Linked DNA regions of Homo sapiens: region 2 is linked to region 1. The links come from fine-mapping of genetic effects on gene expression. Tissue or cell type: whole blood. Region 1 holds a variant in brackets; the other region holds the start of a gene. All regions are shown on one strand. Distances are from middle to middle.

The links. PIP is the estimated chance that this variant, and not a neighbour inherited with it, causes the effect.
Region 2: LRRC14 starts here. The variant in region 1 is the best candidate, but not a certain one, in a credible set for the expression of LRRC14 in whole blood (TOPMed, PIP 0.74).

The regions. Positions count from the first base shown.
Region 1 is chr8:144,475,177-144,477,800 of GRCh38, forward strand. FOXH1 (forkhead box H1) reads right to left here and starts at 673. Exons shown (of 3, transcript NM_003923.3): 1 at 407-673; 2 at 1-85. The coding sequence starts at 580. RefSeq lists enhancers at 1-17, 914-1,807. The variant CAGG/C (reference allele first, on the strand shown) is at 1,537.
Region 2 is chr8:144,516,636-144,519,308 of GRCh38, forward strand. It overlaps LRRC14 (leucine rich repeat containing 14), which reads left to right and starts at 1,357. Exons shown (of 4, transcript NM_014665.4): 1 at 1,357-1,406. It overlaps RECQL4 (RecQ like helicase 4), which reads right to left and starts at 1,198. Exons shown (of 21, transcript NM_004260.4): 1 at 1,066-1,198; 2 at 967-1,000; 3 at 779-873; 4 at 415-555; 5 at 1-129. The coding sequence starts at 1,149. RefSeq lists silencers at 803-1,552, 1,643-1,812.

The DNA.
Region 1 (2,624 bases):
AGGAAAGGTTGTGGCGAATGGAGTCTTTCCAGCCCTCGTAGTCTTCCCTGAAGAAGGGGAACACGGCCTGGACCTGACGGATGATCTGAAACCGCCAGGCGGCCGGCCGGCGCCGTGAGCCCAGACGGGGAGGGGGTAGCGCCCTACCCCTCCCCCACTACCGGGCTCAGGGGCGCGCGGTGCCGGCCCCTGCTGTCCCCGAAGAAGGACATTTCTGCGCGGAAGCGCGGCAGAGAGGGCAAGGGGCTCCCGGAGAAGGGTCGTGCCTTGAGGCCCTCAGCTCTCAGGACTGGTCCCACTGGCATACCTGGGTGGGCTAGGAAGGGGTGGGGGTCAGGGCTTGAACCTGGAAGTGGGTGGGGAACGAGTCTGGGGAAAGAGAGAGTGGGGGCCGGGGCCCGCTCACCTGGGCCAGCTTCAGTCTGCGGGAGGGAGCGGCCTGAATCACCAAGGCGATCATGGCCAAGTAGGTGTAGGGGGGCTTGTCATGTCGCAGGTACCTCTTCTTCCTCCTCTTAGGGGGCTGGGAGGGCGACTCTGCCTCTGGGGGCCCCAGGCGGGAGCCGCTGCAGGGCCCCATGCGGGACGGTAGACAGCGTGGGCAGGGGCCTGGCCGGGTGGAGGGTGCAGGGCGGTGGGGCAGTGTAGAAGGCAGGGCCGGGACCTGAGGCCGGGCTGGGGCAGGCGGGCTGGGGCCTTTATCATTCGGATGGAAGGGGGAGGGGAGGGAAGGGAGGAAGAGGCTGTGGGGGAGGGGAGCATGCCGAGGGCTTCCACAATTAGCAGGTTTTGGTTAATCTGGAAGGGAGGGGCAGAGAGCATTCTAGTGGGGGCTTCTCCTGAGGCCTCAGTCTCCACCCCTGAGTTGCCTTTGGGTGGCCAGGCCCGGCTTCAAAGGGGCTGCGATGACCCATGGCTACTTTATCCCGTCTTCCCTGGTCAGGTTTCAGGACCCCATTTAACAAATGGGGGAGTATTTAGCCCATGCCAAGCTCCCAAGGCGTGGGGCGCTCCTGGAGTTCAAGATCTAGCAGCTGCTAGTAGGCCCTGAACTATGGGGGCTGGATATCCACCCAGGACATGATCAGGTGGAGCTTCCTGGAGGAGAAGGCCATGAAGCCCGCACCCTAGGAACAAGAGGGGGACACATTGACTCAACTGATTTCCTGGGAGTTGCTTCAGGAGCCCAGGTGGACCGCTCACCTCCTCCTCCCTAGCCATCTCTGCTCCTCCACCCAAGCAAGGCTGGTATTGTGTATCCTGCCCCAAAGCCCAGGTTCTCCTCCCTCACAAGGGGCAAGTTTGCCCAAGAGGATAGCAGCTCTGGGAATTAGCAGCGGTGGTTGGTGCTGGCACCAGGCCAAGGGCCCCCAGACACACGGGGGCCCAGGGATATGCTTTTGCCCTTCACTCTGAGAATTCAGCTTTTCTTGTGCAGCCTCCACCATGATAACCTCAAAGGGCTGAAAATCTGCAGCATACGGTGGGGTCCAGCACACCCTGAGGTGTGGAGGGGAGGGACAGGCAGCAAGTGTC[CAGG/C]AGGAGGAGGCCTGGGCCGCAAGGGGCCTTGTATGTGGGGTACCACACTGCTCCTGCCCCCCACACCCCCGGTCGGGTGGTGCCCCTTTTCCTTCTATCTCTGACTCTCCCCTCAGACGCCACGTGGTTTCCCTCAGGACTCCTGCCACCACCTCTCTGCTGTGTTCCCTAGGTTATGGCTGCACAATCCTGTGCCTCATGAGGCTAATACTTGTGGCCACTTCACCCCATTCGGTCAGCAAGGCGTCGTTCTTTCCTACAAGTGTTTGTTGTTGTTGTTGTTTTGAGACAAGGTCTCACTCTGTTGCCCAGGCTGGAGTGCAGTGGTGCGATCTGGGCCCCGTGCAGCCTCCACCTCCCCCGCTAGGGCGATCCTCCCGACTCAGCGTCCCGGGACTACAGGCGTGCGCCACAGAGCCCAGCTAATTTCTTAATTTTTGGTAGGGACCGGGCCTGCCTATGTTGCTCAGGTTGGTCTCCCGGGCTCAAGTGACCCACTGGCCTCGGCCTCCTCCCAAAGTGCTGGGATCACAGACGTGAGCCACCGGGCCGGGCCTTTCCCATAATTTTTTTTTTTTTTTTGAGACGGAGTCTCACTCTGCCGCCCAGGCTGGAGTGCAGTGGCGTGATCTCGGCTCACTGCAAGCTCCGCTTCCCGGGTTCATGCCATTCTCCTGCCTCAGCCTCCCGAGTAGCTGGGACTACAGGCGCCCACCACCACGCCCGGCTAATTTTTTTGTATTTTTAGTGGAGACGGGGTTTCATCAGGTTAGCTAGGATGGTCTCGATTTCCTGACCTCGTGATCTGCCCGCCTCGGCCTCCCAAAGTGCTGGGATTACAGGCGTGAGACACCGCGCCCGGTCTCCCGTAAGTTTTAAGGCACCCCCCTCTCCACTGGCGCTTCCTTGGTGGGGCGCTGGAGGCTCCCCAAGTTCTGACCGCTCTTCTCCGACCGCACTGTCCTGGGCCCGAAACCACCCCCAAAGCTGCCACCCATTCCGCTGGCGCCCGTCCCGTTGCCCGCGATGACTCGGTTTTGTCCAGCATAAATCAATGACCACCGTCCCGGGAGCCTTGGAGCACT
Region 2 (2,673 bases), 41 kb after region 1:
CTGTGGAGGCTCATCACTGACTTTTTCTGCAAAGGAGGGGACAGGCCCTGTACCTGGGGGCTTTGGGGTGGATGCCTTAGATGAGGCTCTTCCTAGAGGCCACGGTCTGCGGCCCAGGGCTGGTCCGGCCTGGGAGGGGAACAACAGAACAGCAGGAGGAACTCAGGCCCCTGAGCTACTGTAGACTCTAAAACCTACCTGAGTCCCCACGCTCAATTGTAGAGCAGGCTAATTAGCACAAGGCTGGACTAGAAAGGGAGTCAAGGGCGAAGGCCCCGAGAAGCTCCCTGAAGACTCGTGCCCTGGTTGGCACAGGGGCCCGTGCCTGTCTGTGTGGAAAAAATGACAAGAGGGCGACCCGGACCGGAAGCAGCTGTGGACCTAGCGTGGACTCACTGCCTGCCCACTCCTCACCTGCAGGGTGCCTTTCAGATTGGCCTTGAGCCGCTGCCCGTAGTCCGGCACCGAGCCCTGGCGGCTCCGCCCTGGCGTAGACTGTGGACTCTTGGTCGCAGCCCGATTCAGATGGGGCCCCCAGCAGCGGGGCTCTGGCGCCTGCAGGAGACAACAGGGGCACAGGCCAGAAAAGGCTGTTGTGGCGGCAGAAGCGCTCCCAGCCACCCCTCCCGCACCTGGAGCGAGGCCCGGCCCTTCTTCACTTTGCCCAGTCCCCCTCCCAAGTTCTGTGCCCCACGGCGGCCTGGCCGCGACTCCGTGGCTCCCGCCACTCCGCCAAACAGGGAAGTGGGAGGAGGCTGGGGCGGCGGGGCCTGGGTACCTCTTCGGCCGCCGCGGGGAGCGACTCGGAGCTGCGGAGCCCGCCGCCGGCCTGGCCCGTGGTACGCTTCAGAGTGCGGTATTCCCGGTAGAGCGCTGCGTGGGCGAGCGGGAGGCGGGGTCAGGGTGGGGCCTGGGCCCCTGCCGACCCGGTGTCTTCTCGCCCCCGCCGCCCCGCCGCGCGCTCACCGCGGGTCTCCTCCGGCGCCGCCTCCACGTCGTCCTGTAAAGGGAACGCGTCAGCCGCGGGCCGCGCCCTCAGCCCCTCGGCCCCTGGGCAGCCCGCACCTGGCTCGGTCGCCGCCCGCGCTGCCGTCGGAACGCGCGCTCCCACGCCTGCAGCCGCTCCCGCACGTCCCGCAGCCGCTCCATGGCGCGCGCGCCCGCCCGGCCTCCGCGCTTGCGATCGTCCAGCGAATCTCCCGCGCAGCCGTCGCGGGGGCCGACAGCCAATGCGGATGCGCGGCGGGCCGGGGGCGGGGCCACCGCCCCTGGGCAGCCAGTCCGTCGGGCCTCGGACAAGCAGCCAATGGGAGGCGTCAACGTCATCGCGGGGCGCCGCGGCGCCGGGCGGGGAGCGGCGGACGGTCTAGGCGGGGCTGGAGGCGGTGGCTGCGGTTGCGGGACCGGTGAGCGCGGGCGGCCGGGGGGGTGTCTGAGCGGGGCGGCGCACGCCCCTGGCCCTGCCTGGCCTCAAGGGGCGGGGCACCGGTCGCTCGGGGCGGCCTGGCCGAGGGAGGCAGTGGCTGCATTTGGGAGCCCGGGGCCGAGGCCGGGAGCCTGGGAGGTGCCACCGCGGGCCGGGAAGGACTGGGAGTCCCCGGGCCGGTCGGAGCGGCGTCAGGCCCTGGTGGGAGACGCATCCGACCTGGAGGAGCAGGCCCCGCTCGGGAGGCGAAAGAGCGGAGGGTCCAGCGCCTCCCGCGGCTCGAGGCCCGGAGGAGCCGGGCGGGGGCGTCTTCGCGAAACGCAGGCGACCGAGGACCGTCGCGTTCCCTGCGGCCGGCGGGAGGGGAGGGGGCGTCGCACGGAGGTGCCTGCCTCCCTTGGTGGGCAGGCCGTCTGCTTTGGTGTTCTCCCGTGACAAGTGCTCGGTTGGTCTGTCCTGTCAGAGCGAGTATGATCGTTGAGATCTGTCCACCGGCAGAACTAGGCCGAGGGTTGGTGTCTGGGACTTTTCAGGAACCGGTGCCTTAAGGACTTACTTGTATGTGGAAAAGTCGACAAAAAGAAGGGCCTTGGGGCCAGAGTGTCTTCCCCGGCCCCCTTCCCTGGCTTGTCACTCAGGCTGTGACCTTGGGCCAGGCCGAGGCCTTCATTTTCTAATCTGTCACAGGGAGATGGCTGCGATTTAGTTTTGAGGATGCTACAGGCAGCAGCAGGGCTGGCACCCTGTGTCACAGGTACCTTGTGGCCTTGGGAGTGTTTGTGCATCTCTGCAGCTTGGGTGCTGCTGAGGCAGCTTTCTTTGCCTTGTCTGAGCAGTCTGTAGCTTTGCACCTTCTGAATCCCACATACTTAAGACTTGGTCTTTCCACAGTGGCTCTCCAGGGAAGAGGGAGAGGTTTAGGCCAGTGGTAAGGGCCAACAAAGGTGAGGGTTGCTTTCTTTCGGGGTCTCCGTGCTTGGTGACGCTCTGGAGAATAGTAGCTTTTGCGGGGGCTTGTATTTTATAGGCTACATCATCTGGACTCGGTGTTCCCTGGGTCTCGGTCTTTTCAACCTGCCTTGTTGCTTATGAAGCTGCTTCTGTGCTTCCAGCTCTTTGGTGTTTTGTGGAGTCCAAGTGTAGCCCTGGAGAGCATCTGTGAGGAGAGGGGAGGGAAAGGTGATTTGGCTGCTTGACTCCTTAGAGTGTCCCGTCAATACTAATGCTGATGAAGGTTGGTGGGGAGA